Regions from separate parts of the Homo sapiens genome. Here all the other regions are linked to region 3. The links come from fine-mapping of genetic effects on gene expression. A gene starts in region 3. Each other region holds a variant in brackets. All regions are shown on one strand. Distances are from middle to middle. Region 1 overlaps ZFAND6 (zinc finger AN1-type containing 6). Region 2 overlaps CTXND1 (cortexin domain containing 1). Region 3 holds the start of FAH (fumarylacetoacetate hydrolase). Region 4 overlaps ZFAND6 (zinc finger AN1-type containing 6).

Evidence for each region. PIP is the estimated chance that this variant, and not a neighbour inherited with it, causes the effect.
Region 1: its variant is the best candidate, but not a certain one, in a credible set for the expression of FAH in whole blood (TOPMed, PIP 0.60).
Region 2: its variant is the best candidate, but not a certain one, in a credible set for the expression of FAH in iPS cells (HipSci, PIP 0.66).
Region 4: its variant is the best candidate, but not a certain one, in a credible set for the expression of FAH in whole blood (INTERVAL, PIP 0.89).

Annotation. Positions count from the first base shown.
Region 1 is chr15:80,073,789-80,081,721 of GRCh38, forward strand. The region is part of intron 1 of ZFAND6 (zinc finger AN1-type containing 6); the gene reads left to right. Among named protein-coding and RNA genes, the nearest start is that of ZFAND6, 18 kb to the left of the region's middle. The variant G/A (reference allele first, on the strand shown) is at 3,943.
Region 2 is chr15:80,188,344-80,196,276 of GRCh38, forward strand. CTXND1 (cortexin domain containing 1) reads right to left here. Exons shown (of 3, transcript NM_001352888.2): 3 at 7,138-7,933. Among named protein-coding and RNA genes, the nearest start is that of FAH, 39 kb to the left of the region's middle. RefSeq lists an enhancer at 990-1,159. The variant GA/G (reference allele first, on the strand shown) is at 4,286.
Region 3 is chr15:80,148,134-80,156,066 of GRCh38, forward strand. FAH (fumarylacetoacetate hydrolase) reads left to right here and starts at 4,866. Exons shown (of 14, transcript NM_000137.4): 1 at 4,866-5,002. The coding sequence starts at 4,922. RefSeq lists a silencer at 4,295-4,854.
Region 4 is chr15:80,119,458-80,127,390 of GRCh38, forward strand. It overlaps ZFAND6 (zinc finger AN1-type containing 6), which reads left to right. Exons shown (of 7, transcript NM_019006.4): 3 at 871-1,041; 4 at 2,255-2,363; 5 at 3,243-3,343. The coding sequence starts at 888. Among named protein-coding and RNA genes, the nearest start is that of FAH, 30 kb to the right of the region's middle. The variant A/G (reference allele first, on the strand shown) is at 3,628.

The DNA.
Region 1 (7,933 bases), 74 kb before region 3:
GTTTTCATTTCAGTAACTATGTAATTCTCTTAAATTGATGTGACCTGAATTAACCTAGTTTTTTGAATTGTCTACTTTTAGGTTCTAATTTTTCGTCATTTTTAATAGTATTGCGTTGAACACACCTGTGTGTAGCTGTAAAATATTTTCCTTTTTAAAAAAGATTTCTTTTGGAAAAATCCTGGAGTGGCTTTACCTAGATCAAAGGATAATGAACACTTCACTGGCCAAATTGTTTTTCTAAAAAGTTATACCAGTTTATATCGACACCAGCAGAATATGCTTCAAAGTTTTTCTGATGTGTAGCCCCTTAAATGTTCTGTTAAAGTGTGCCTATGGAGCTCTCTGACTTGTTGATTAGTTTTTGCCTAAAAGCCTATTTTCAACACCACTTTCCAAGATGTAGATGGATATAAAGCAATTTTTCTGGATATTAAAATCAGCTGAGGGAAATTGGAAACACTTTTACCCACTTAACTGAGCAATTGTATCTATGCTAGATATTTTATATACTTAGTGTATGTGTTGCTATTAGTAAGTATGGGGCTTAATGTTTTACACTGGCTTTGTTATTCAGGCTGGCTTTTCTTTTTCTTCTGGTAAGCACATACCAGAAGAAATATTTTCTTTCAAGAAAATATATCAGAAACATTTTTAGGAGGAGACTGGAGTAGTGCCAGTTAACATTAGGAGACTGGAGTAGTGCCAGTTAACTTTACCTGTCTCAAAAACATGTATGAATAACCTTTGTCATTATTTGTGCGTTTCTTAATTTTGAGTTTTTAAAAATACACTTTGGAAACAGATAACTTTTATGAATAATTACAGGCTTTGAAATGGTATATCAGCATCTTTCCAGTATTTTATAGGTTTCAGTTAAAGGTAAGAACTTAACTTTACACACATATAGTGGTGCTAGACATATGTTGTTTCTGTTTGTCTTTAAGAGCATGCTTTGTTGGCATTGACCACAAATTATGTATACTTTTACTAGCTTGTCTGTTAAATGAAATAGGCATAACTGGCTTATAAACTAGTTGAGTAACGTTCTAGAATAAACTTAAGTTGTGTTAAAATCAAAGACAATTCTAAGACAATCATATTTTTTCTTACAAATGGGGAGTAATGATAAGCCATAGGCTGGGCTATAACTCATTGATGGAACCAGTAGTTGAGCATGTATGGTATGGAGTTAGTCTAGCTCATTTTGCAATTTAAATAATTTAACTTACTTTGTGTCAACTTTTATTTCAATTAACTGATAATTTAGTATCTCTGACTTTCAGAGCTGATGCTGGTATGTTTGTCATTGTGTTTGTTTCAGAGGGAAGTTTTTTTTGTTAATGTCTACTTTTATTGTTTGATTTTTTTTCAGATACTTTGGTGTTGAACATTTGGGATAGAAGAGAGAAATTTAAAATTAAAAATTTTCCATATTTCTATCACAAATATTGGTAATTTGACAACATGTAATTTGATTGTCGTCTTAATAAAATTTAATGTTATTGCTACCAAATAGAGATAAAGGTAATTGTAAATACTGTAGTGAAAGTTTAGCTGTTGATTACATTTTGCTGGGTACCCCAAGGTAAAGAAGTGATTTTTTTTAGTGGTTTCTGTAACTGTAATTCTGCAGTACTACTGATCTTACATTGACAGATTTAGGGAGTATCTTTTTGGTTTCCTAGGGAGAGTGGAAAGTAGTTTTCTACAAGGAGAAGAAAACTTTTAAATTGACCTAGGTATTTGGGTCAAGATATGAAAAGTGATGGTTGCGTTTTATTTCAAAAATAATGTATTCAAAGTCTCTGTTGTTAGATGCCATTCAAGAGGAACATAGTGATTTTTTTCCCTCCAAATAATATGAGGAAAAAACTTAATGGGCAGTAAGTTGATAAAACTTGAAAGAACCTAGAGCCATTTTTGTTTAAACCTATTAATGCTAATTTTTGAACTGATGTGTCTATGAACTTGTTTGACTAAATTTGGTTTTCTGTGTTTGTATGCCATCGGAGAAAATGAACTCGAAACAGTTTTGTCGTTAGTAGTGCTTTGGTAGAAGAGAGCAGATCCATCTATCCCTGTTTATACCTTTTTTCCCCTTCGCAATATAAATACCCTGTGTCATCTGCTACCAATAGATTTTTGTAAGTACTAGATTTCTCAGCAACATTTAGTGCCATTGACTACTTTTCCTGCTTGAAACTCTTCTCATTATTTTCATGATACTGTCTGTGCTTTCCTCATTAGTGATCTCTGTGTCTTTTGCAAATGTTTCTCCTTTACAACCATTAAGTAATAGAAGTTCGTAGCATTTTGTTCTTAACTCTTCTCTAGACTTCCCTTTTGATAATCTCCAGTCCCATATCTTTAATTAGCATACTATACATATTAATGGTTCCAACGTCTGAATCTAAAATCCAAAACTTTTTTTGTACCTGAGACCCATATTTATCCAGCTCACCAAAAGTCACAGCAAATGGGTGATACTGCCACCCAAGCCAGAATCTGATTGTCATTCTGATTCTTCTTCATCACCAGTTAGCCACAATTAGCCTATAAATTTTAAATTCAGTGTCTCTAGAATCAATCTTTTTTTTTTTCCTTCACGTGTTAGCATAAGGCCACACGGTATGATTTCTTAGATGACTAAACACCCCCCTAATTGATCTTCATTTCCATTTTAGGCTCTGTATAATACATTCTTTACTGTGCGGTCATATCTGTTTTTCTCTGCTTCATATTCGTTAGTGAATACTAGCTAGAGTGAAGAATAACACCAGCTGATTCTGTGCTAAACATTCTCTCAGATGGTCCCCACGCTAAGTACTGTTAGTCTTTTCGAACCAGTAAGTCAATTTAGAAAGGCTAGCTAATTTGTCTAAGGTCTCCTTGGCTGGTAAGTGACTAGCATACTTTAAAACTGAGGTTTGTCAGACTGGAAGTCCTTTCCTTTACACACTGAGCTGTGTGCTTTCCTGAGCTTACTTCTCTATTCCTTTTTTCCCTCACATCATTCCACTTCACTCTTTAACCACCAGCTATTTGTAATTCCTTCTTCTAAGGCATAGTGAAAACTTGCTGCCTGTCTAAAAATGCTTTAAGGGAAACAAACATTAAAAAAAAAAAGTATTTCTGACAGTTTTTTGGAACACTTTGATAAAGGATATTAAACATTTTAGCATCCCCAGGATACAAGAAGATAAAAGAATGAGGCACAGGCAAAGTAAAGGTAGTTTTCCTTATGCACATAGTTTTGAGTTTCATAGCTGTTGAATTCCTCACGTTTAATAAAAGCTTGAGACCAAGCTGTGTAGTGGGAAGATTAGGCAAAGTGCAAAAGCACTTTAAGCTATTTGAAATGCTAACAACTCCTTAAATAACTGTTGGCTTGGACCTTGTGCTCATTCTGCATCCGGGTGTATAAAGCACCTGCCTGTGAACAAAAGTCAAATAACTTACTGAGTAACTTATACATAGGGTAGAGAGGCTACATAGATTATTTTGCATCAAATATTCTATCATCAAAAAAGTTAAATAATGCAGACAACATTACTTACAAATAAAATTGACGTGAACAGAAAAATAGTTGATTTGGAATCATTTTCATTTAAAATATTTTCTCTTTGTCCTCTGTGCCATTCCCCCTCTAACATATTTTAAAGCAAAAGGACCTCTATTGGACCAAAAAAAGAAAAAGTAGCCTTTTTATTCATAGCTTTGAAAGCAACTTGGTGGTAAAGGAAAAAGGTCAAATTGATGAAACTTTTGAAATACAGGTAAATATTACCAATGTTTGTTTCTTTGAAGGGATCAAATTATTAACTATAGTTGGGAATTAAAGGTAATTATAAGCATAGTAAAAATCCATGAATTACCCATTGTAAGAATAGGAGTGAGTTTTCTTTCTTTTTTTTTTTTTTTTTTTGGAGACAGAGTCTC[G/A]CTCTGTCACCCAGGCTGGAGCACAGTGGCGTGATCTCAGTTCACTGCAACCTCCACCTCCCTGGTTCAAGCGATTCTCCTGTCTCAGCCTCCCAAGGAGCTGGGACTACAGGTGTCTGCCACCACGCCCGGCTAATTTTTGTATTTTTAGTAGAGATGGGGTTTCACCATATTGGCCAGGCTGGTCTCGAACTCCTGACCCTTGTGATCCACCCGCCTCGGCCTCCCAAAGTGCTGGGATTACAGGTGTGAGCCACCGCGCCCGGCTTTCAAAACTTTTAATGTGGCATTATTTACTATCCATAATAGTCTTTTGCTATATTTTATTTTTTCAACTTTTATTTTAGGTTCAGGGGTACATGTGTAGGTTTGTTACATGGGTAAATTGCATGTCACTGTGGTTTGATGTACAAACAATCCCGTCACTCAGTGACCATAGTACCTGATAGGTGTTAATAGTTTTTCAACACTCGCCTCTCCCCAGCCCTTTCCTCTAATTGTCTCCAGTGTTTATTGTTCTCATCTTTATGTCCTTGTGTACTCAGTGCTTAGTTCCCATTTATAAGTGACAACGTGGTATTTGGTTTTCTGTCCTGCATTAATTCACTTAGGATAATGGCCTCCAGCCCCATCCATGTTGCTACAAAGAACATGATTTTGTTCTTTTTTATGGCTGCACAGTATCCCATAATGTATATGTACCACATTTTCTTTATGTAGTCCACTGTTGATGGGCACCTAGGTTAATTCTATGTCTTTGCTCTTGTGAATAGTGCTGTGATGAACATAAACGAGTGCATGTGTCTTTTTGGTAAAATGATTTATTTTCTTTTGAGTATATACCCAGTAATGGGATTGCTGGGTCTAATGGTAGTTGTGTTTTAAGTTCTTTGGGAAATCTCCAAATTGTTTTCCACAGTGGCTGGACTAATTGACATTAACACCAACAGTGTATAAGCATTCCATTTTCTGGGAAACTTCACCAACATCTGTCATTTTTTTGACTTTTTAATAATAGCCATTCTGACTGGCTTGAGATGATATTTTGATTTTGATTTGCATTTCTCTAATGATTAGTGATGGTAATGTTGAGCATTTTTTCATGTATTTGTTGGCTGTATTTATGTCTTCTTTTTTTTTTCATTTGCTCAATTATTTTATTTTATTATTATTATACTTTAAGTTTTAGGGTACATGTGCACAGTGTGCGGGTTAGTTACATATGTATACATGTGCCATGCTGGTGTGCTGCACCCATTAATTTGTCATTTAGCATTAGGTATATCTCCTAATGCTATCCCTCCCCCCTCCCGCCACCCCACAACAGTCCCCAGAGTGTGTCTTCTTTTGAGAAGTATGTGTTCTTTTGCTCGTTTTTTAATGGGATTATTTGTTTCTTGCTTGTTGAATTCTGGATATTAGACCTTTGTCAGAGGTGCAGTTTGTGAGTATTTTCTCCTATTCTGTAGATTATCTGTTTACTCTGTTCTTTCTTTCCTTTTTTTTTGGAGACGGAGTCTCGCTCTGTCGCCCAGGCTGGAGTGCAGTGGCGCGATCTCGGCTCACTGCAAGCTCCGCCTCCTGGGTTCACGCCATTCTCCTGCCTCAGCCTCCCAAGTAGCTGGGACCACAGGCACCCGCCACCACGCTTGGCTAATTTTTTGGATTTTTAGTAGAGACGGGGTTTCACCGTGTTAGCCAGGATGGTCTCGATCTCCTGACCTCATGATCCGCCCACCTCGGCCTCCCAAAGTGCTGGGATTACAGGCGTGAGCCACCGCACCCGGCCTACTCTGTTCTTTCTTTTGCTGTTCTTTTGGTATACATTAAATAATAAAAATGTAAAATAATGACAATAGATTTTGAATGTTATAATAGATTTATGTGATATATAATTTGAAAAGAATGTTTTCCTTAGCTTTTTTTTTTTTTTTTTTGAAATGGAGTCTCGCTGTGTCGCCCAGGCTGGAGTGCAGTGGCGCAAACTTGGCTCACTGCAAGCTCTGCCTCCCAGGTTCATGCCATCCTCCTGCCTTAGCCTCCCCGAGTAGCTGGGACTACAGGCGCCCGCCACCACGCCCAGCTAGCTAATTTTTTGTATTTTTAGTAGAGTCGGGGTTTCACCGTAGCCAGGATGGTCTCGATCTCCTGACCTTGTGATCCACCTGCCTCGGCCTCCCAAAATGCTGGATTACAGGCATGAGCCACCACGCCTGGCCCTTAGCTTTGAGAAACAGAATACACAACCGTTTTTCTGTTTTTTTTCCCTTTCTTTTTTTTTTCTTTGAGATAGAGTCTTGCTCACCCACCCAGGCTGGAGTGCAGTGGTGCAATCTCCAGTCACTGCAACCACCATCTCCAGGGTTCAAGCAGTTCTCCCGTCTCAGCCTCCGAGTAGCTGGGATTACAGGCACCCACCATCATGACCAGCTAATTTTTGTATTTTAGTAGCTACGGGGTTTCACCATGTTGGCCAGGCTGGTCTTGAATTCCTGACCTCGGGTGATCCACCCACTTCGGCCTCCCAAAGGGCTAGGGTTACAGGCATGAGCCACTGCACCCGGCCTACACAACCAGTTTTCTTAAATTTTGTAGATAATTGTTTAAAATTATATATACAGTAGTTGCCCCTTATTCATGGGAGATATGTTTGAAGACCCACTGTGGATAGTACCAAACCTATATTTGCTGTGTTTTGTCCTATACATAAATACCTATGACATAGTTTTATAAATTAGACATAGTAAGACATTAACAATAATAGAATAATTATACTGTAATAAAAGTTATGTGATATCATCTCCCTCCCTCTTTCTCTCAAAATATCTTAGTATCTTCAGGCTGTGGTTGATCTCAGGTAACTGAAACAGCCGACAATGAAATCTTGGATGTGTTAGGTCATTCTTGCATTACTATACAGAAATACGTGAGACTGAGTATAAAAAGAGGTTTAATTGGCTCATGGTTCTTCAGGCTGTGCAGGAGACATGGCACCAGAGATCTGCTCAGCTTGTGATCATGCCTCAGGAAGCTTACAATCACTGCGGAAGCAAAGAGGGAGCTGGTGCATCACATGACAAAAGCCAGGAGCTAAAGAGAGTGGGGTGCGGAGAGGTACCACACACTTTTAAGCAGCCAGATCTTGTGAAAACTATCTCAAGGACAGCACCAAGGGGATGGTGTTAAGCTATTCATGAGAACTCCTCCATCCCCATCATCCAGTCACCTCCCATCAGGCCCCACCTCCGATACTGGGGATTACAGTTCACCATGAGATTTGAGTGGGGACAAATACACAAACTTTATCAGTTGATAAGGGTGGACTACTGTAAGGTTATCTTTTCTCTGAATGAATACTAAGTCTCAGTAGCTGTAGGAATTTAAAAAATACATTTACTTTTTGTAGAAAAAATTTATTCTTTGCAGACTTTCAAATGAAAACCTACACTGAAAAGGTGACATTGATTGCCTAAAATAATTGTTTCAGTAACAAATTTTTATTGAGTTGTGTGCATACAGCCTAGTCAGATAGTCAGACTAGTTACACAGTCAGATGAGCTTGTAAAGTACTGTAAAATGGTCCTTTTCTGGAGGAAACTCACATACTGTTTGATAAAAGTAGGGGATATGAGTATTTCCTATCTGATAAGTCAGTGTTAAAGACTTTAGACAAATTTAATGGAATTTAATTGAGCAAAAAGCGATTCAAGAACCAAGCAGCTCCCAGAACCAGAACAGTTCAGGAGGACTGCAGAGTACCGTATTGTCAAATAACATATTGTCAGATAACATTTATGGTCAAGAAAAGGGAAGTGACATGCATACAGCAAAGGGAAGTGAGGTACAGTAACAGCTAGATTAGTTACAGCTCAGCCTTTGCCTCATCTGAACACAATTTGAACAGTTGGCCACCTATGATTGGCTGAAACTCAGCTACTGTGATTGGCTGAGACTTGGCTACTTATTACAAGAGTAGGTTACAGTCTGCTTA
Region 2 (7,933 bases), 40 kb after region 3:
TGCAAACACTTCTCTGAATTTGGAAGACCAAAGCCTTCCCCAGGATTTTTCTGAATTCCTGGGGCTTATGTTCCCAGGGCTACATCTGCTTCTGTTGACTCAGCTAAAACCCCTGCTCTCTAGGCTGTGTTCTGAGATTGTTCCTAAACCCTTCTCTCCTTGTTCCTAAAGCCTTCTCTCCCGGCATCAACCCACAGGAGTGACTCATCTTTTTCTCAAAGCCCTCACCTGCACATGGATAAAAGGCCCTCGTGCTCTGCACAGTAGGGCTTTACTGGAGATCTCTGGGTCACAGGCAAAGGTCACTTAAAATCATTGTTAATCCACTTGTTCCCACTGGCACCAGAGAATGCTGGTGTCATCAGTAGAGATCACACGCTTATCCCCTTGTTGGGCATTTAATGCACTTAAAGGGCTTGGTGATGTTGGGAAAACCCAATGGACCTGCCCCAGAGTCTGAAACACACACAGGGCAGAAAGAGCCAGAAACGTTCCTGGCATCAGATTCACTTAAGAAACCAAACTCATGGATGTTAATTCTGGGTCCAGCCTGGGCTTTACTTGGCAATTACTTTTCCTTAATCTTCAGCGACAAGAGCCTCTTTGTTTTACTGTCTCCGACTCCAGAAATGCTCACTGCCAGCCCCACATGACAAGTGACTTTAATGGTCTTTAGTTTTGGAGATCTACTTTATTGAAACCTATCTGTGTGTAATAATATGAAATAGACAAGAATGACTTTCAGGGTCAAATTTCCTCTTTTTGACAGTGATATTTTAAGGACTAGAAGCATTTTGACCAGATGAATGGAGCTTTCAGACGGGATGATGAGCATCTCAAGGCAGGTTGGCCATAGTTATCACTATATCTTCCTTATTAATTTGTATTCCATTTATGCTTCCTGTTTTTAACCAGTGGTCCATTCGGAATATGAATGGATGACTGTGAAACTGAGAGTAGAGTTCATTTGAAACTTTACCTGACCAGGAGGAGTCAGTCCAGAGGTGTTTCTGGCAAGATGGGGCCCACTGCTGGTTTTATTGTAGGGTGGCAAGGGAGCTAGGCTCAGGGGCACGCTACTGCCCGGGGCCAGGGCAGGCACTAGGGGTTCCAGGGGCTGGGAGCCCCTGTCCCTATTGCAGAGGGGACTGGAGGAAGAGAAGCCTTGTTGCCCCCACCATGGGACTTCTCTGTCCTGAGGCCTCTCACACACATTGGTTTACCTTTGAAACACTGTACATTGAGAGCTCTCCTGAGGGTGAGTGTAGACTTGAACCAAGACAATGTTTTTGAGGACAAGGGAACTTTAAGGATTTTTTCTGTTTTTTTGTTTCGTTTTGTTTTTTAATTTTGAGAAAGGGTCTCACTCTGTCACCTAGGCTGGAGTGCAGTGGCACAATCTTGGCTCACTGCAGCCTTGACTTCTCTGGCTCAGGTGATCTTCCCACCTCAGCCTCCCAAGTAGCTGAGACTACAGGTGCACACCACCATGGCCAGGTGATTTTTTGATTTTTTATAGAGACGGGATCTCACTATGTTGCCCAGGCTGGTCTTGAACTCCTGTGCTCAAGTGATCTTCCTGCCTTGCCCTCCCAAAGTCCTGGGATTACAGGCATGACACACCATGCCTGGCAATTTTGGGGTGTAAAGTATCACAATTAATATTATCTCAAAGATTCCTGACACCAAAATGGATCTCAAAAGTGGTTCTATTTTCACATTTTCTCCCTTTCTTTAGTTTGGAAGCATATTCCCTTTAACACCCCCAGAAAAAGTAATTTGGCAGGGTTGTATCCTGAAGTACTAATTTGTTTTCTGTGTATCCCCTCTCTTTCTGTCCTCTCAGCAAGATTTCCAGGGCTGTGGGAGTATTTTGCTCTCCTTCCTCCTGCAGAGAGGCAGAAAGAAACTCGTGGGAGAGGGACCAAGACTGGATGCTTGCTTGCAAGCCTGTTTTTGTTTTTTAAAATTCTGCTCTTGAAAACTAAATAAGGCTGAGGCCAGTCTTATTTTCAGACTGTTTGCCAACAGCACACCAAAAAGTTGGAGTGACAATTTCTTTCTTGGAGAGGGAATGGAGTAGCATGGCACATCTATTCCCACCAAGGTCATGATCCTGGAAATAAATAGACCTTTGTTGTCTATGATGATTTGATCAATATCTGCCTTCATTGGATTTTCAGCTCCTTGAGGATAGTCTGCTTTTGCTTACTGAAAGTTCATCAGTACCTAGCACGTAAGAGCCGCTCGATGTATACTCATTCAGTAAGTGAATGAATTCTAGGAGAGCACTGGGAGCAGATTGTGTCTTATTGATAGGTCTACTTCTAGCATTTGCAGGGCCTAAGCTGAGAGTGCTCATGGAGTCTCAGTATTTAGGAGGTATAAACAAGCTATACACTGTTAAATAAAATACTTTCTATTCTCCTACCTAGATATGTTTGCTTTCATAATTGCAAAACAAACATATTTGCAAAGTGATGGCTTTTATGTGATTGAAAATTGGTAAAATATACAACTAAACTTAATTATCACCGCACTTGAAGAAAGTCGATGGGATGGCAATGTTTGGATGAGCATTAAAGACATAAATTCATGAATTTTATACTTTATACATTTTTAAAATCAGACTTTAATTTTTACAATTATTTTTCTTTCTTTAATTTCATTAGAATCATTAATTATGCTCTCCTGAGCTTTTCATATAATGTGTGGTTTATTGATGATATAAAAGATTAAAAAGTACATTGAATTATACTTCAGTGTACAAGAAGTAAATATCTTCATCAAAACTCTGTGTTAAAAATTGAAAAATTAAATTTTTCATATGCATTTTCAAAGTTAGTTTTCTTTGAAAATATTCAAAATTATTAATAATAAAAAGCGAGATACAAATAATTAAAGAGCTTTAATATTTAATCTCAAAATTCTTTAAATCAAAATGAAATGTCTAAATTCATTTTTTGAAAATGTAATAAAATCTGTTTTTGTTTTGTTTTTTGATATGGGGTCTCACTATGCTGCCCAGGCTGGCCTCAAACTCCTGGGCTCAAGGGATCATCCTGCCTCAGCCATCTGAGTAGCTGGAATTACAAGCCCGTGTCACTGCACCCAGCTCAAAAAAATTAATTAAATCTTATTAAATATATTTTATAAAAACAAAACTACTTTGCAGTCTTAGTGTTCACTGTCCACTTAGTTGCCAAAGTAAAGAATTAGTATCACTCTTTGTTTAGGTTATGAGACCCATGTGCCAACGAGGGCACATGTTGTGAGTCCCTTCAGAACCACAGATTGGAAATAAAGTTTGGTTTTAAAAATTTATAAAGTAGGTATGTAGTTGATGAATTTATGTCTTTAATTCTCATCCAAATATTGCCATCCCATCAACTCTCTTCAAGGGCAATGATAATTAAGTTCAGTTGCCTATTTTACCAATTTTCAATCATATAAAAGCCAAAAAAGAAAAAAAAAAAGCAAGAAAGTGGATATTTGATATAAATGGGAAATGTCATTTGTTTGGGGAAGAATCAGTTACATTCTGGCTAGGAGGAAGTGTGTAACAAGTTGAATAATCATTCCTTTCTCTTACCTAAGCGCTTCCACTGACATGTCCACCTCCAGGGTTGGACCTGCCACAGTCCTGCGTGACATTCACACAGTCTCTTTTATTCTGGGGACACAGGGCAGGGATGTAAAGAAGAACTCCCCTGGCTTGGACAGTATTACTCATATTTGCAGTACAGGTTGAGCTGCACCAACCTGAGGCCCGAGGGATAGAGGTGCTTGTATGAATTTGAACAAATTGATTTGTATGTGCGTATCTGTTATAAGCTGGGCCCTCTGTGGCATGAGTTCCAAGGAAGCCCCCACTCCATACCTTACCCCAGCCTAAGGGCAATATTGCTTCTTTACCTCCATCTTTGGACCCCACACGGTCTCTGATATTTGTTTTGTAATAGCAGAGACTTGTTCATTTCACACAACTAGTGAGTGGCAGAGCTGAAACTGGATTCTAGAGCTTTCAGCATCTAGGACAACACTCTCCCCATTTATGGTCTAGTGGTATGTGGACTTTGATTTCGGCCTGTGGAAGCAAGATTCTCAAGGGCAGGGCTGTGCTCTATGCATCTTTGTGTCCAAAGCCCCTGTTAGACAGTAGTTGCTTCTAAATGTGTGTGGCATTGTACTCACAAAGTTCCCCGTTTCGTAGCTATAAGCTCAAGCAAACTCTTCTTTCAAATGATATTAGTGCTGTATTTGGTAATCTAAGAGAAGAAAAAAG[GA/G]AAAAAAAAAAAAACCTGTGTGCACCAAGGTTGGTCACTGAAGCACTATTTTTGTAGCCTAACTTTCAGCCTCCTGAATGTCATCAAGTCATTTAGCTTTCTGGGGTCTCTCTTCCCTTAATATATATTCGTGGAAAGCTTGAGCTGCTGTCCTATCTCCAAAGTGAAACCGCATATCTCCCCACTTAATGGGATGACTGCTGTGAAATGGAGGTGGCTTCTAAGGGACAGCGTAATCTTTTTTGGGGGTATATGTTGACCAGCAGCCTCTGTATGGTCAGCTGAAGTATTCTCAATTCTGGGGTCCTTCTTAGTTATGTAGATGAGGCAAGTGGACACTCCTTTCCTTGGAAAAAGGGTATAGTTGGATATAACCAGGGTGCCCCTCTCTTTGGTGCAGAAGGGTGGAGAGGGAGTGGACCAAATTGCATAAGAAGTCCAAGGGATGTGAGAAACTGGTATTCCAATCCTCCCTCCTAAATAGTCAAAGTTAGAAAATTGGTTTGGGTGCACTGGTTGGGTCCTGACTGAGGTCTGTTGGCAGGAAGAACACCCAGGGCCCTCTGCAGATTCATCTCCCTTTGTCCCTCCAGATCTATTCTCCATCCTTCCCTGCCCTGCTGTTTGCGCACCTGGAGGCTGACCTCGTTGGACAACATCACCCAGGCTCATGCTCTCTGGCTGCTGGTTAGGATTGGCCAGTGGAGGTGCAGGCAGAGGTTGGAATATAGAGGAATAAAGCAGCAGAGAGCATCATCCTCCTTACTCTTTCCCTGCTGAGCCATGGTTTGGGCAGTGGCTGTGTCCCACTATGTCCTACTGCTCCTGTGGGCAACATAACCACAGTCTTTGCTAGATTCTGGTGCCACTGTTTTCTCCCCAGGCAAGGGGCAGTAATGGCTTCTTATCATTGTTAACCCTGGATTAATCATCAACCCTTACTGATTCTCTTTACCTTACCTGTCCCTCTGAAAATTGTCCCAAAATTAAACCCTCTTCATTGAACCTTTTGAATTTGCCGCTTAAATCCTGATGAATAAAGTCATTGGTATTAAGGGTGACAATTGGACCCATGGAGTGAGGGCTATTATTGTAGAAGTGGCCCCATGGAAGCCCTTGGAACTGCCTCTTTGTGACAAAATAGTAAACCAAAAGCAATTCTGCATCTTCAGGGCAATTGAATTGTGCCCCCTTCAAAGACTTGAGAGATGCAGGACAGGTGGTTCTAATCACATCACTATTTAAGTCACCTGTCTGGCTTATGCAAAAGCCAGGTGGGTCCTACAGATTTTCATAAACACAATCAGGAATTAATGCCATTTCAGGAGTTGTTCTGGATGTGGTATCTTTATTAGAGAAGATCCGCTCAGCCCCTGACACCTGGTGTGCACCTGGTATTGTACCTGGTGACTAGAACAGTAATTCTCAAAAGGTAGGTCTGGATTAGCAGCTTAACCTTGGAATGTGTTTGATGTACAATTTATAGAACTCCACTGAAGACCACCTGAATTAAAAATTCTAGGGGCTTACCAGCTGTGTTAGAATGAGCCGTCCCGGTGATTCTAATGCATACTGAAGTTTGAGAACTGTCATATTAGAAATAGTTTCCATTGCATCACAATCAATACAGATAATCAGAAGGAGTTCACCTTCACCTGTTACAAGACTGCGGCACACCCTAAATGCATTACCTCAGGGATCTGCCAATTCTCCTGGTTTCTGTCATATGATATGAGACCCTTATCATCTTGACAGCCCATAGAACTTTATGATTGCCTGCTACATTGATAACATTATGCTAATTGGATCTGGTGAATGAGGACTAGCAAGTGCTGTACTGCCACATGCTTGCCAGAGAGGGGAAGAAAACACATGTGGAGGTTCAGTGACCTGACACATTGGTGAAACTTCTTGGGTTCTAGCAGGCTGAGGCCTGTTGGAATATCCCCACTAAGATGAGAAACATGTTGCTTCACCTTGTGTCTTCCACCATAAAGAATGAGGCTCAGCAGTTGATGGATCTCTGGATTTTTGAGGCAATATATAGAACATTTGTGTGTGTGTCTGATGGATTTACTGGTTACATCATAAGATTGCTGGTTTTGAATGGGGCCCAGAATAATACAGGGCTCTAGAAAAGGTATATCCAGACTGTGATGAAAGCTACTCTGCCATTTGGACCTTAAGATCAGCAGATCCAATAGTGCCAGAAGTATCTGTTGCAAATGGAGTGCTGTATGGAATTCCTAACCATCTCCAATAGGAGAATCACAGTGTTGACCCAACTGAACAGGATGGGAAGAGAGGGTCCAAGGCAGTCTTGGGCAGATATGTGTGAAAAGACATCTTTGAAGGGGCCCTGGGTGTCAAGATATTCAAGAGCCATCTAAATGCCTATCAGAGGGCATCCACTGCAGAAAAGACTCTCAACGATCAGCTGGATAAGATGACCCAACCTGGGGGTGTGAGCCTCTTCCTCTGTCTACTCTGGTGTTTGCTCAATGACATCATGAACAGAGTGACCATAGTGGAAGGGATAGAGGCTATCAACACTATGGGCTTTCCCTTGTGAAGGTCCATTGGTTTCCATAACTTCTGGATATGTAGCCTTCCAATGAATGAGACCAATGCCAAGCCCCTGATATGGCACCATTCCCAGAGATGGGTGGTAGGAGACAGACCAACCGCTTACTTGGTAGCAGGTTGATTACACTGAATCCCTTTCATCATAGAGGGCAGTAGGAATAGACACATATTCCAGATATGGATTTGCCATTCCTGCCCCTCCCTGCCATTTGTGGTGTTTCATTCTTTCATTTTGTGCTGCTAAAACAGAACAACACAAACTGGGTAATTTATAATGAATAGAAATTTATTTGGCTCACGATTTTGGAGGCTGCAAAATACAAGATCAAGGAACCAGCATCTGGTGAGGACCTTCTTGTTGCATCATAAACATGGTGGAAGGAATCACATGGGCAAGAGAGAAAAGAGGACCAAACACCCCCTTCATAACAAACCCACTCTTGAGATAACTGCATTAATCCATTCACTCCGCCCTCATGGCCTAATCACCTCTCATTGGGCCCCAGATCTCAACACTGTTGCAATGGGAATCAAGTTTCCAACATATGAACTTTGGGGGACACATTCAAACCACAGCATATTCATCTCAGCATATCCCACAAACATGGCCTTTAACCAAGAAACCTTAGGTTTTGTGGGTTTGGAAATCTCTAGTGACCAAGAGGAACTGCTTCCACCAGGGAATATAGTTATGGGTCTGTTAAATTGGAAGATGATCTTGTGCCATCTGGGGCTCCTTATGTTGAAATATTGGCAGAGAAAGAGATCACTGCACTGTCAGGATGGTTAACCCCAATATCCAAGGGAAAGTGGGGTTTCTGCTACACAATAGGGGCAAGGAGTACTAGCTTTGGAACCCTGGGATTCGCTAGGGCACTTGGTACTCCCTGTATCCCTTGTCCTCATTCTGTAAGCCTGAGGTGGGGGCATGAAATTAGATTTCTAACAAGCTCCCCAGAGATGCCAATGCTGTCCATCCGTGGACCATAGTTTGAGTAGTGTTGCCCTAGAGCACCTGCTATTCTTTCTGATAATTTTACAGAGCTTCCAGGTGAGATCTT
Region 3 (7,933 bases):
ATTAGTGATGGGGAGGTAAGGAAGAGGAAAACAGGATTGCTGACATTTATTGAGAACTTTCTGTGTGTCCCACAATATGCTGAGAGTTTTTGCAGGGGTTTTCTTATTTGATCTTCTAAACAACCTTACAAGGCAGGTATCGTTTTTATTATTTCATTTTTCCAATGCATGAAATTAAGATTTGGTGAGGTACAGTAACCTAAACCCAAACTCAATATGAACGTTCTAGAAAGAGATTTCAAATCTTTCTTATTTGAAACCTTAACATATATATTCTTACAGCTGGGTGCAGGGGCTCACGCCTGTAATCCCAGCAACTTGGGAGGCTGAGGTGGGCAGATCACGAGGTCAGGAGTTCAAGACGAGCCTGACCAACATGGTGAAACCCCATCTCTACCAAAAATACAAAAATTAGCCAGGTGTGGTGGTGTGAGCCTGTAATCCCAGCTAGTTGGGAGGCTGAGGCAGGAGAATCACTTGAACCTGGGAGGTGGAGGTTGCCGTGAACCGAGATCGTGCTACTGCACTCCAGCCTGGGCAACAGAGCGAGACTTTGTCTCAAAACAAAACAAAACAAAACAAAACAAAACATAACAAAAAACAAACCAACAACAACAACAACAGACATATATATTCTGTTACCACATACTGTTTCCTTTTGTTCAACATCTAGGGAAAGGGCCACAAGGAAAAATCATGCCTAACCAACTTTAGTGTGTGTGTGTGTGTGTGTGTGTGTGTGTGTGTGTGTGTGACAGAGAGAGAGAGAGAGAGAGAGAAAGAGAGAGCGAAAGAGAGACAGGGAAATTTTAGTGTGGATTTATTGTTGACAAACTAAACAATGTTTGCAGAGAGAGGCACTGAGAATGATCTATTCAGCTGTGCCAAACAGGTTGAATACAGAGGTTGTAACTTATGTGTCAACATTCCTCTGTATTTCTGGGAGCAGAGTGGGATCCACAGCTATAGCTCAAAAAGGCACCGAACATTTGGATGGGAAAAAAGGGATAATTCAGATGGGAAAACTATTGAATATGTATTTAGTTATAAGAAAACAAAACAAAATTAGAAGTATTTTGTTGAAATAACAGTGAGGGAGAGTCTAAAAAGTGGCTCCTGCTTTGATAATGGTAACAGAGAACTCATTATATGGTACACATTATTAAGTCAGATGGCAATGACATGTTCTTTATTTAAGGTGCTGCTTGTTATTTGTGAGTCTTGCAAATCCAGCTTAAATCCAAAATGGATTTGAGGTAGTATTCCATCAGAACATAGACACAATAGTACCTGAAACAGACTAAAGACAGAATTAAAGAGGGCAGGAAGAAGAAAATTTATATTGCAGAAAACCTAGCCCTGGTTGAGCTGGTTCACCTAGGACTTCATCCAATCCCCTTCTCCCCACCCTACAACATGCACTTGCACTTGAATTACTTACGTTCAGTTCCAAGATCCTCTAAATTTTGAACTCCTTTGAGAGGACAGAATGTCATGTATATTTGCACATGACATATATTCTTGATACTAAAATGTACTGGACACATGCCAAACCCATGATGCCCACTACAAAATGTGTACCATAAACATCACTGAGCTCAGACCTGAAAAAGAGAGGACACTTACTTTGCTAAAGTGCTTGGCCTTTGACATAGTTTCCTCTTTTTCTTGACGACCATGCAGCAGTGCTGAATGTTGCAAAAAAGGCCACCCCATCCTGCTTCCCAGTGCAGGCAGCGTCCACACCTTGCTTATCTGAATGGCAACTGCCAGCTTCTCAGAGCCGTTGCAAGACATTAGTGTCCTGGATCTGGAAAGTTCTCTCTCAGCTCTCTTGTAAAGGAGTGAGGGACATGCTTTGTGTGAATGAGGGCTGCAGTGCAGTGTGTTGCTTTTTAGCATCAGAGGGAGGCATTAAATATGGTGCTACAGAGACCCAAACCAGCCTTCATTGCTGGAGATGCTGAAACTCACTGCGAGTCCTGAAAGTGTTCATACTCTTTGAGTCAGGAATCTTCCTTAGATAATTGTCAAGGAAAAGGAAAACATTCTGTGCATGCACCTCTTCATTGAACCGTTATTATTACCATCTAAAACATTGCGACTTCCTTAGCTAATGACAATGATCATAATAAAGCCTATTGGGCCTCAAGGAAAAATATTCAAGAGAATAAGGTAGGGAAAGACTGAAAAATTGCATCTATGTAAAGTTTATAAGGATGGAAAAGCCATGTGCATACAAATGGAATGAAAAAAAAACATGAAAATGAGAAGACTACATTGGTGGGATTATGGGCAATCTCTTTGTTTTAAAATTCTTTTTAAATAATTGTTGTGATATACGTGGCCAACACATTCTCTTCCAAAAAATGAGAAAGAAAAAATATAGTATACTTGCAAGTTATTTCAAATGCTGTTTTCCAAATAGAGAACAGCTTTGGCGTTTTCAGACACTGTGTATAATTAGTGGGTTGGTTAAGTCTATTTTAAAACTATGAAATCTTACTCCCTCTTTAGCCATCTCATCCCCACACCCTTTCCTACACATACATCTGCCCCATGTCCTTTCCCTAAAATACTTTGGTTTTCTTTCTCCAAGGGTTTTATCATTTAGGCTTTTGTTAACTTGTATGTATTCAGTAGAAGCTCCTGGCCTAGCATCCCCCACACAACACATGCTCCATAAAAACAGGAATTAAAGATGTGAGTTGCTGGTGTATCCCCATGGCCTGGCATAGGGCATGGGCTTATTAGTTATTGCTTCATTTCCTTTTGGTCAACAGTTTTATATTAATGACATGTATTTATGGAGAACCTATTCTGTGCCAGGTGTTTTGCTGGGTATTGACAGAGTTGCACATGGAATAAGAAAGCTCGTGGTTTTAATGGGAAGGGGCAGGGCAACTACAGAACGTGGAAATAATTCATTGCGTTGCAGCTGAGGACTAGCTTGAATTAGGCAGGTATCAAGTGCTCCCTGGAATGCCTCTTTATAAGGCCACCAAGTTGGGATACTCTCCTCTTCTTTTCCTCTTTCAGGAACCTACCAGAACAAATCAGACCACCTTCATTCCCTCCCCAGGGCTGACTTAAAAGAACTGAAGCCAGTCCTTGGCAGAGCCACTCAGGGCAGGAGATGAGAGCCAAGAGGCTGTGCCCAGATTACACTCCTTACTGGGTGATGATCACTGGTCACGCCTGGTGGACAGGCACCAGAGTGATCTCAGGGGCTAGGAAGGGGGGCTCAACAGCGGGCCCTGCTTGCCGTACTCGCTCCTCTCAAGCCGTCTGGTTTCAAGCCCACTTAGCTCACATTATCCTGCCATCTTCCAGCCTCTTCTCCCTAAGCTGAAATGCGGAGCAGCCTCCCTAACTCAGCAGTCACTGTGTCACATTCCTCAAGGATCTTCAGGGAACCCTTGCCCAGACTATCGTCTACTTTTCTAGATTTCAGCCGGCATCCTGGCTGTTTAAAAGTGTACCTGAATCATTCACACCAACAATAACACAACGACACACTCTCCGGTGTGTTCCAAGTGTCCTGGCTGTGGCATGGTCTCAAAAAACTGCAGCTGACTGCACATGAGTGATTAGATAACACCTTGAACCCACCCTAAGATAGTCTGCCTTTCCCTTCTTTCCTGTCTTCCTTCTTTTCTTTCTCCCTCTCTCTCTTCTCCTATTTCTCTTTTATCTTTCCTTTCCTTTATCCCCCTCCCCTCCTTTCCTCTTTTTCCCTCCCTTCTCTCTCTTTCCACACACACATAACCTGTATATGCCAGGCACTATTCTAGGTGCTTCACAAATATTAATTCATTCCATTCTTATATCAACTTTGTGAAGTAGGAACTATTATCATCAACATTATACAGAGAAGGAAGCTGAGGTAGAGAAAGTTTAAGTAACTTGTCCAAGGTTGAGCATCTTGTCAACGTCATTTTACTACTGGCATGTGAAACAGGTGAGTTATATTTTTTAGAATATTAATTCTCATTAATTGAAGCCTTCCAAACAGGCCTAACTGTCCCCTTCTCTGACATACAAGTGGAAGTGTCATAGCTGGACGGAGCATCATGGTATGAAGGCAGAAAGGACGCGACTGGGTGTTCTTCTGAAGCTCAGGGAGCAGCTCTTGGGGAGAAAGTGTTTCCAGGAAGCGGACAAGAGTTCTGTTGAGCTGAAGAGCAGGGCAGCAGCCGGGGCGAGCGAGGCTGGAGTCATGCAGGGCAGAGCCTTAAATGCTAAGCTGGGGTTTGCTCTCGGTAGGACCAGCTAGCTGCCCCGAGCGGGGGCTGGAACCAGATCTCCCCCACGTGGACTCGCGGACAGGGCGGGGATCAGGACGGGGGCGGGGCCAGGGGAGGGGCGGGGCTCGGGGAGTGAGGCAAGACTGGAGGGCCTGGGACTCTCGGGTACCCGGGCCAGGGGAGGGGCGGGGCTCAGGGAGGGAGGGAGAGACTGGATGACCTGGGGCTTGCAAGGCGGGGCGAGGGGAGGGGCGGGGCGAGGGGAGGGGCGGGGCTCAGGGAGGGAGGGTGAGACTGTGGAGGACCTGGGGCTCGCGGGGTCGGGGCAAGGGGAGGGGCGGGGCTCAGGGAGGGAGGAGAGACTGGAGGACCTGAGGCCCACGGGGGCGGGGCCAGGGGCGGGGCGGGGCTCTGGAAGGGCGGGCGAGACTGTGGAGGACCTGGAGCTGGCGGGGGTCAGGGTAGGGGGGAGGGGCAGGGCTCGGGGTTCGGGGGCGGGGTGTTCACGGTGAGACCAAAAGTCAGGTAGGAGCCTCCGGGGTCCCTGCTGTGTCACCCGGACAGGCCGTGGGGGCGGGCAGGGGGGCGGGGCCGGGCCTGACCACAGCGGCCGAGTTCAGTCCTGCTCTCCGCACGCCACCTTAGGCCCGCAGCCGTGCCGGGTGCTCTTCAGCATGTCCTTCATCCCGGTGGCCGAGGATTCCGACTTCCCCATCCACAACCTGCCCTACGGCGTCTTCTCGACCAGAGGCGACGTGAGCAGTGGGGCTTTGGCGTCCGGGCGCGGGGAGGGAGTGGAGTGGAGTGGAGTGGAGTGGAGTGGAGTGGAGTGGAATGGAGTGGAATGAGGGGCGGGATGGAGGCTTGTGCCATTTTTCTCTTAAGATTCGTTCCGTGAGAGTGCCTATGGGCTCGAGTCCCGCCTCGTAACTTTCTAGCTGTGCACGTTGTTTAACTTTTCAGCCTCATTGTCCGCAGGTTTGCTGAGAATTAAATGCAAAATGAAATGAATCGTGTCACTCTCCCAGACAAGCAGAGCAAGCAGGATTCTGTTACCGGAAGCTGCAGCACACAGGCATGCTGCCTACTCCGAGGTGGTTGCGGTGTGTTTCTCTCGCCCAAGAGGCCAGGTCAGGGCTGGTGGTTCATCTCGCTGGATAGCCCCTAACCCTAGAACCCGGGAAATGATAACCCGGTATGCGTAGCAGGTCAGAGGGGCACGCGCGTTTCTTGGCTTAGAGTTGTGAGATCTAAGATGGCAAGTGTCTCTGCCTATAGCTGAAATTCTTTCAGCTCCTGGTGTGGGCTCCCTGGCATTCCCCTACTGATCAGAAGAAAGAGGGCAGGGAAACAAACTTTGACTAAGTCAGTGTAGTCTGATTGGTAGAAAGAAGTATTTGAAAACTGGGGGTTTATCAGCAAATAGATAATAAGAGGTTCCCTAGGTTGGAAAAGCAGATTCCCTTGGATTTGTTGATGATATTTTTGGCTTAGATTTCTGCTCCCAACTTTAAAGGTAAACTCCTGATTCATCTCTGTAAGCCATAGAACCCCAGAATCAGGAAATGTTTGCTAAACGAGGGGCCTGGCAGTTGGCTTCTTCTTGGAAAGTGGGGTTCCCTCCTTCCCCCATGGCTTGTCATTGGATGCAAGTGGCTGGCCTTTTGTGGGCCTGTCTGCGGTAAGTGCTTTGGTCTAGAAGAGTCAACTTGTGGTTTCACATCTGGCCGGGCTGACCAGATGTTGCAAGGATACAGAAAGTGGACACTCAATCCCCTGGAGGACACAATCTGAGGCACATTAAATCTTAACTTGTGATGGCCAACAACCTTTCTGCAGACAGAGCCCTCCCTCTGCCCTCCTCAAACACTTTGCCCTCGGCAGATGTGTCCTCCCTCACCTTTCCTGGGAGCACAAATCCATTAGACAGAAACATTTGTGAGAGGCAGGCACACCCCAGTAGGGAGCTCTGACTTGCTTTCTCAGGGGAATCGAATTAATATCCGTTAGAGTGTGGCTAGGTGTTTTCAGACACCATGTCCCGCTGTTTCAACATCAGAATGTGCAGGGCAGCCACTACAGATGTCTGGAAGAGAGAGCCCCATTCCGCTGTCCTCTGATACAGTGCTGGGGGTGGAGAGTTGGCCCTTTGGCCTTCCAGCTGAACAAGCCTCTTCTGAAGCTTTCTCTGCAGGCATTGGACATTCCAACCGTGATGGCTGCCTTGCCAGGCAAGACTAGTTGCCAAGGCAAAACCTCCCTTCCCCCATGTCAGCAGTCAGCCTTTCCTAATTTGAGTGGAATAACAATGAATCCTGCCATCACTTTATTCATTTTTTTTTATTCAGCGAATGCTTATGAACCCCAACTCTGGTCCAGATTTTGCCTGGGCTCCGAGTTGGCATCAAAGACACAGGAGACGCCTTCCTTCCATTTCTGGTTGATGGACTAGTAAGGTGTACAGGGGTGCTCTCTGTGAAGGTAGGGGTGGTGGCCTCTGAGAACGGGGTTGTAGTAGTGTGGAGCTGGTTTTGCCGGGTGCCTTGTTAAAGTCCCCGTGGTCTGGCTGTGCTGCTGCCTCCTGGCCTCTGCTTTCTCCAGCCACATTGGCTGCCTTTGAGTCTCTGAGATGTGCTAAGAGCAGCTTCCTGCCTTCAGGCCTTAGCACATGTTGTTCCTTCTGCCTGGAATACTCGTCCTTCTGCTCTCTATATGCTTGGCCCCTTCTCACTCTTTGGGACTCAGCTTAAATGTCACCTCCTAAGCACCCTCTCTGAATGAGCTCCCCGCTGCGGCCCAGCCTTGGTTATCTCTCACCACACCCTGTGTTTCCTTTTGCTTCTGGAGAGAAGGAACCACGTCACTGTTCCCAGGGCCTCAGCAGCCTTTGTGTAATGCTGGTACTGAGAAGATGCTCTCTAAATCTTTGTGGCATGAATAGCGTCTACCCTGTGTCTGTTCTTGTGGTGAGAGATTTACAGATATTAATTAAATTCTCACAATAAACCTACTGTGAAGTTATTGTCCCCATTCTACAGATGAGGAAACTGAGGTCCAGAGAGGCAAAGCATCATGCTCCAGATCTCACAGCCAGTAAGAGGCAGATATGGGGTTGATCCCCACATCTGTCAGCCTCCCAATCTGTAAGGTCCAGCCCTACGGGGCTTAGCGGGTTTTCTCCCTGTGTGCGGAAACGAGAGATTGTAAGAAATAAAGACACAAGACAAAGAGATAAAGAGAGAACAGCTGGGCCCGGGGCACTGCTACCACTGAGACACAGAGACCGGTAGTGGCCCCGAATGGCTGGGCACACTGATATTTATTGCACACAAGACAAGGGGGGCAGGGTAGGGAGGGTGAGTCATCCAAGTGATTGATAAGGTCAAGCAAGTCATGTGATCATGGGACGGGGGCTCTTCCCTCTAAGGTAGCCGAAGCAGAGAGGGAAGGCAGCATAAGTCAGCATTTTCTTCTATGCACTTATAAGAAAGATCAAAGACTTTAAGACTTTCGCTATTTCTTCTACCGCTATCTACTACAAACTTCAAAGAGGAACCAGGAGTACAGGAGGAACATGAAAGTGGACAAGGAGCGTGACCATTGAAGCACAGCACCACAGGGAGGGGTTTAGGCCTCCAGATGACTGCGGGCAGGCCTGGATAATATCCAGCCTCCTACAGGAAGCT
Region 4 (7,933 bases), 29 kb before region 3:
CAAAATATAGTATACGCATTTCATATTGTGCCTTTTCATTTATTATCGGTATTTCCCTCAATCAAAAAATATTCTAAAATATTTTTAATGACTGCATAACTTTTGTCATTTATATATCATGCTTTTTTAAAAAAAAACTGCATACATTCTAATGTTATTGTCTGTTTATAAAAATTATAAATAACGCTGTGAAGCACATCCCTTATATTTTATTATTCTTTTTCTGATTATACTCTAGTCATTTTGTTGAAGACCCTTAAAGGGGAATGACTGGTTCAGATAGCAATATTTGTTTTTTACAGGGTTCTTGAAGTGAATTGCTAACTTGCTTTCCAAAAAGATTGAACCAATTTATTATCATTTTACAAGCATTCAGCCCAGTTCTCCATATCTTCACCAGAAATGATACTATGTGAAATGCTTTTGAAACAGAATAAATAACACACATTAGCACATGAACTTCCAGCAAAAGTTTAAATGCTTAGATATTAGATAATATAACATACATCAAAACTTATAATGTATATCTCTTATTACTAGGAGGGTCCAAACTGAGCTAGACTTAATAAGTTATCCTTGACCTTCTGGGGGTAGAGTCTTCAAAACAGATTTCTTTCTCTAGGAGTTCTTTATACTTTCTGAGCCTGTACAGACTTGGCTTATGTAGAGTGGGTTGGAGATAAAAAGTTCAATGTGTGTCCTTTTGGTTTTTATATTTTTCTCTCCTTTTTAGCCCTATGTCTTGGGACAGTTATGTAGAATAGTTTGATATATGTGGGCTTTTTTCTTTATCATATAAAAGCAGTTTTGGATAATGTGTGATTGGAAGTTACGTGTCTGAGTTCTTTGCTAATTTTATGTAATTTTCAGGTGTGCAACTGAGGAACATGGCTCAAGAAACTAATCACAGCCAAGTGCCTATGCTTTGTTCCACTGGCTGTGGATTTTATGGAAACCCTCGTACAAATGGCATGTGTTCAGTATGCTATAAAGAACATCTTCAAAGACAGAATAGTAGTAATGGTAGAATAAGCCCACCTGGTAAGTAATTCTAGTGAAACCCGTCTATATTCATAATTGAAATACAAGTGGATATTTCGGTATACCCAATACCTTTTTCTGCTCTCACATTATATTTATATTACCATATTCATATCAGTAAAATTTCTCATTACACATTGTGATTATAATCAGTAGTGAGGAGTTAGGAATGAGTATCATCACTCATTGAAAATACTGTAAATTCATACCATAATCTTATTTCTGTGGCTGTGGAATTCTGTTACTTTATTTAGAGGGGACACCTCAAGTGTCTTGGAAAGTAAGGGAAGAGAGTGATAAAAGAACCTTTGTTCTTTTATCTGGTGTGACTTACAGCTCAAGTAGTTGTTGAAGGAAGGAGTGGATTATTGATAACCACAGCTCAGTGGACTTGAGAGGAAGCTTTACTCCATTAGGAAGGAGGAGTATCGTGGATTAACTCATAGTAAGGGATGTTCAACCCCAGTTCACTAGGGTTTTTTATGCCTTTTTGTGTCAAAGGATATTCTTGGAATTGAGGTGGTCTTTTGTTTCAGTAGTTGTATAAGAAGGATCATGCGGATTCCAAGTATAAGCTTTGCAAAAAGGAAAGTGTTTAGTGTATTCATTTAGGATAGATCTCATGTAGGTTAATGCCTGCATGTATAGATTTTTGTGGTTAATGAAAGTGTAGGCTATTACTTAGTTCATTTAATATTGTGTGTGAGATCTTGTCTGTTTTTGTTCAAGCCAAAACCTACAACCATTTAACCAAAACTCCAAATTTGCTTAAGGCTAAGATCAAATGAGTATAAATTGTTTTAAAATTAAGTCATCATCTACATTTATAACCTAATGTACTGAGCATAGATTTTAATTCTGAACCTATATTCTTCACTGCTATGTCATCTTATTTAAATATCTCATTTGTTCTCTAGTACTTGGAAGATGTTTTTGAATTAAAGCATTTGGGCTTGGGTGCTATTCAGTCCTAAGAAATAGGAGTTTATTAATGTATACAATTTGCAGATGGTTTCCTTCTTGGTTTAAAATTAACATATTTTTCACTGGCAAACCGTTGAAAAATTTTTTAAAAATAATGAACCAACATACTACATATTAAAAGAAAACCTCTATACTGTGTTCTGTGGAAAATGGATTTTGATTTTTTTAGATAAGGTCTTAGACTGCTGAGCATATAGAATCACTAATACGCAATGTGGTACTGTTACAGCAACCTCTGTCAGTAGTCTGTCTGAATCTTTACCAGTTCAATGCACAGATGGCAGTGTGCCAGAAGCCCAGTCAGCATTAGACTCTACATCTTCATCTATGCAGCCCAGGTAAGATGTACTCTCTGAATTCTAATGAGAATGCTAATAAAAACTAAAGAGTATATTCTGTGTTTGATTAATAAGGAAAACTACGTAAAGCTACTTTTAGATTAACTGGCCTAAAATTTTATCGTCTGATTATAACTAGTTAGAAAAAGCGATTTCTTGCTTTTACCTTGAGGGATCGGGGGTTATCGTTTAAGTCTTAGATTTCTTTTTCAGGCATCTTTTTCTTTCTCATAATATATCCTGACCTACTCCTGAAGTCCTTTGGAAGCATGTTAAGTGAAATGTTAGTCTTATTCTGCAAGTATTACTACCGTGTATTAAAAAAATACAGTCTTGTCACACATTATCTTTGTTTAATATCATGATGTAGTACTCATATTTGTTTATATTGTAATGTGTATATATATATTTTTTAACTCTGAAGTCACATCATTTAGAAGCCTGCATACAGCAATACTGGTTTCATTTTTATTCTGCTTTTAGGAACCAATATATTAAGTTCCTACACTGGGGTTCCTTTTTTCCAGTTCATGATAAGATATGTTCAGTTTTGCTATGCCAGAATATCATTTACAGCTTTGTCTTAGGGTTCTTTAAGCATGTCTTTATCATGCTAGTTTTCATTTAGTGAATTCATGTGGTACTTGAAATACACAAAGGACATATACACTGTTGCTTTGTTTCCAAGGCAGTAAAATTCTGGTCCAAATTAGTCTCTAGTTTTAAAGCTCTATGATTATGTTTAAGTTATTAAAAAAAAGTATGTCTGTGTTCTCATCTTAATTATCTACTTAGATATGTTGAACTCTTACTGTGTCACATTAGTTAATATTCATGTGTAGAGATCACCTTTTAAAATGAAATATTTTGCTTTTCTAGCCCTGTATCAAATCAGTCACTTTTATCAGAATCTGTAGCATCTTCTCAATTGGACAGTACATCTGTGGACAAAGCAGTACCTGAAACAGAAGATGTGCAGGGTTTGTATATGAACTAGCATGTATTTTGTTATTTGAGTATTATAGGCCAGACACTATCCTAGGTGCATGTATAAAAAAATTGCCAGCTTAAAATACATGTTTTTCTGTTTTCCCTATGAACACAATACTTTATATCTTTAAGTATTTAATTAACATGTTGGGGAGCCATTTCACACTTACATGTAATTTTATCATCAGCATAAATGTTGCAAATTCAAAATTTGTTTAGTTTGGAAAATATAATTAAATGAATGTGTGGCAGTGTTACACTGTTCTCTTTTACT[A/G]TTTTGGCCGTTTCAGTCTATATACTACTCTGTAAGAAAACTGGGGCTGCTGGTTTGAGGGGCATCTCTTTCTTTTGTGTTTTGACTCATTATCTGAGAGACTGTGTCCATCGTGCCTGGCAGTTCTCCTTTTTTCTTCCCCATGTGTGCAATAGTCACATTCAGTTGCTCGTATTCACAGCATGGTATCTATCGTGTCTTGCCCATGCTCTTCATATCCCCATTATGAAGCTCAAAGTGATCTAGGAAGACTTGAAAATTTGTATGAAGGCTTTCGTAGTAGGGAGAGAGAATGCGGAGTAGGCCATTTTGGAGGCTATTAAATAATCTCTGCTTAATTAGTTGTATTCTAGCAGTGTGTGGAAATAACATGGTAACAAGGAAGGATCTCTGGAAAGATAAGCCTAATGAAGAGCAGTGTGTCATTCTGCCTGTGAGATGATTTACCAGTGAAACTTCATTGCACATGGTGTTCACATGATGGTAACAGATACATCTGCCAATCCTAGTTTAAGATGGCTAAATTTTTAATTTAGGCCAGGCACTGTGGCTTGTGCCTATAATCCCTACCTACTTGAGAGGCTAAGGCAGGAGGATCGCTTGAGTCTGGGAGTTTGAGACTAGCCTGGACAACAAAAAATTAGCCAGGTGAGGCGGCACATACCTGTAGTCACAACTACTCAGGAAGCTGACGTGGGAGGATTGCTTGAGCCCAGGAATTCAGGCTGCGGTGAGCTATGATCGTGCCACTGCACTCCAGCCTGGGTGGGCACCAGAGCAATTCCCCCACACCCGGTCTCAAGAATTAAATAAACAAATTTAAATAAGCTAGGTAGTTCCTCTTGCTTTTTTTTCATACCCAGCAAATACTTGAACCAGTTTGCTTGTTTGTGTAGATTTTGCCGTAACAAAAGAATATTCTGTGTGGTCAACGTAAATATTCTAGTCCCATCTAGCATATTGTGATAAATTCTTAAATGTTTTAAGTGAATAATTCTTATTTCTTAGTTACATCAAAAAATTTAAGGAAGGGCAGAAATGAGGAATCTTTAAAGAAATAAGGAAAAGACTGGGCGCGGTGGCTCACGCCTGTAATCCCAGCACTTTGGGAGGCTGAAGCGGGTGGATCACGAGGTCAGGAGATCGAGACCATCCTGGCTAACACGGTGAAACCCTGTCTCTACTAAAAATACAAAAAATTAGCTGGGCGTGGTGGCGGGCATCTGTAGTCCTAGCTACTGGGGAGGCTGAGGCAGGAGAATGGCATGAACCTGGGAGGCGGAGCTTGCGGTGAGCCGAGATGGCGCCACTGCACTCCAGCCTGGGCAACAGAGCGAGACTCCGTCTCAAAAAAAAAAAAAATTTAGAATGTTGGCAGTGAAAAAAATGTATAAAGCTTAAGAATACAATAGTATTTACAGAAGTTTGACAAAGAATAAAGGTCATAGATTGGTGAACTATCATAACACATAGGAAGTGTTTTTATACCATTTATTTATAAAAGTGTTTTTATTTCCATTTGTGGTGTATGGAAAACAATACCGTTTTCTCCACTTAGCCCTGAGTATATCACTTCAAAAGGTGGTCCTGATGCCATATTAGGAGAAATTGTATAGGCCCCATTTTTCATACATGATTTGAATGACTTTTAGGTTAAACCAGTATTAACTTGTAAGTACCTTTAAAAAACTTAGCATTCGTAATATCAGCAGCAAATCTTTGATAAATTAGGTATAAGTTTCATCTCAGTTTTAAGAGAGGAGGGTTAGGTTCCAGTATGTAAAATCTCTTAACAACCTAGTTTTTAAAAAAAATTTAACATATTATTGAATTAAGAATACCCTTTTTATTATAAACATACACAAATATAAACATGTATGTTTGTATATATGTACGTGTATATTCTGTATGTGCACACACTCATACACTTACATGCAATTACGATTTCCCTATTGATCAAATTCAAATAACTTTTTTTCCATTTATTTAATAGATGGATGAAAAGAGACAGAAAAAGTCTCTTTGAGTCAGTCATATGGTCATAAAAGCTGGAACTGGAATCCAGGGACCTAACTCATAGAGGCCAGTATTCTTATGATTAGACAGTTGTGGAGCTTGTTGGACTAGGATGTGGATATGTGTATTCCTGTTAACACATACATCTCCCTCAGTTCTCAGGGTAGGATCAACTCGTTTAGCAAACTACCCAGGTATCAGTTTTCTTCTTCCTCACTCCATATGCTTCCCTCAAGGGAAATTTATATAGATAGGAAAACCATCCCAAATGGAAGAAGGTATATGAGTAGCAGCTATATGTCTAAGCCAGAAGTTTGTAACATTTTGTAATTGGAACATTCAGAACAACTTTTTCTCTACATGTATTCTGCTTATAATTAGGATATGCTGCCACCAGGTTGGTGGTACTGCTTTCATATTGGCCACATGGCTCTGAAGAATTTTTATGTTTCATTGAGAATTTAGCATATTGAAGCATGTTTCTTAGTTGTTCTTTTTGATTTAAAAATATAGCAGTACCTTACTTACATAGTGTCACTCAGGAGTATAAGTCAAATTTCCAGTTCACAAATGCTAGCTTTTAAAAGAACTACTTTAAGCATTTTGGTACACTCTAAAACTGTTGAAGAATATGCTTAAATTTGGTCAACCTCTTAGTCCCTCAGATCTTGGGTCATAGTAGAAAAATACTGAATTTGGATTCATAAGTTCTATTTTCCTATCTTGGTATGCCTGCTTAACTTCACTGAGCCTTACTTTCATTACTCTTAAAAGAGAATAAGAATGTCCCTCTTACAGGGTATTAAAAGATACTGAGATAATGGAGGTTGGATGAGCTTTGTAAGCTGCAGAAGATATTCTTTATATTGCCCAAGTGATTTGGGAGTTGTAGGAGGCCTAGAGTAAGAGAGAATTTTGAAGCTTTCCAACACTCGAATGATGTCATATGTTAAGATGGTAAGGTCTACATCACTGAAGCATTCTAGGAAAGATGAGTTGATGTTAGAGACCATATAGAGAGAGGAATGCTGTGCTTAGTGACAGGATGAACTAGAATTCTCAGGCTCTTTCCTACTCTGAGGGTTTCTGACTTTATACAAAGTTGAATTGTCAAATCATTGGTTCAGAAAAATCAGAGGGGGACAGTCTCTTTGGACTGATTTAGGAAAGCTGTATGGGTTTTAAAAATCAGGCATTTCTTCTGATTCTAAAGAATGAGTGAGAATAGCCAAAGGTATCTTGAAAAATAACAAAGTTGGAGGACTAACAATTCCTGGCTTCAAAATTGAGTACAAGCTACAGTAATCAAGACTGTGTTGTACCGGCATGAGGATAGTCATGAAGGTAAGTGGAATAAAAAATTGAGAGTCCAGAAATAAACTCTTATTATATTTATGGGCCATTGACTTTCAACAATGGTGCCAAAATCATTTGATGGGAAAAGAGTAATCTTTTAAACAAATGATGCAGGAACAACTTCATATCCACATTCGAAAGAATGAATTGGACTCCTATGTCATACCATATGCAAAAATTCACCCGAAATACATCAAAGACCTAAAACGAATATAAGAGAACTATAAAACTCTTAAAGCAGGTATACATTTTTGTGATCTTGGTTTAGGCAGTGGTTTCTTAGATATGACACCTTAACCACAAGCAGCCAAAGAAATTATAGATAAATTGAGCTACATCAAAATAAAGATTTTTGCTTAAAAGAGTGGAAAAACAGCCAGGTGCAGTGACTTATGCCTGTAATCCCAGCACTTTGGGAGGCCAAGGTGGGCAGATCACTTGAGCTCAAGAGTTTGAAACCAGCCTGGGCAACATGGCAAAACCCCATCTGTACAAAAAATAGCCGAGTGTGGTGGCGCACGCTTGTAGTCCCAGCTACTGGGTAGGGAGGCTGAGGTGGGAGGATCACTTGAACTTGGGATGTTGAGGCTGCAGTGAGCCATTAACGCACCACTGCACTTCAGCCTGGGTCACAGAATGAGACCCTCTCTCAAAAAATAAAAGAGTGGAAAACCAGCCTACAGAATGAGAGAAAAAATACTTTGAAATCATATATGTGATAAGGATATATAAATAATTACAATTCAACAATAGAAAACCCATTTTAAAAATAAGCAAAGGATTTGAGTGGACATTTCTCCAGAAAAGATATACAAGTTTCCAATAAACACATGAAAAGATGCTCAACAGGGCCGGGTGCGGTGGTTCACATCTGTAATCCCAGCACTTTGGGAGGCTGAGGCGGGCGGATCACCTTAAGTCAGGAGTTGGAGAC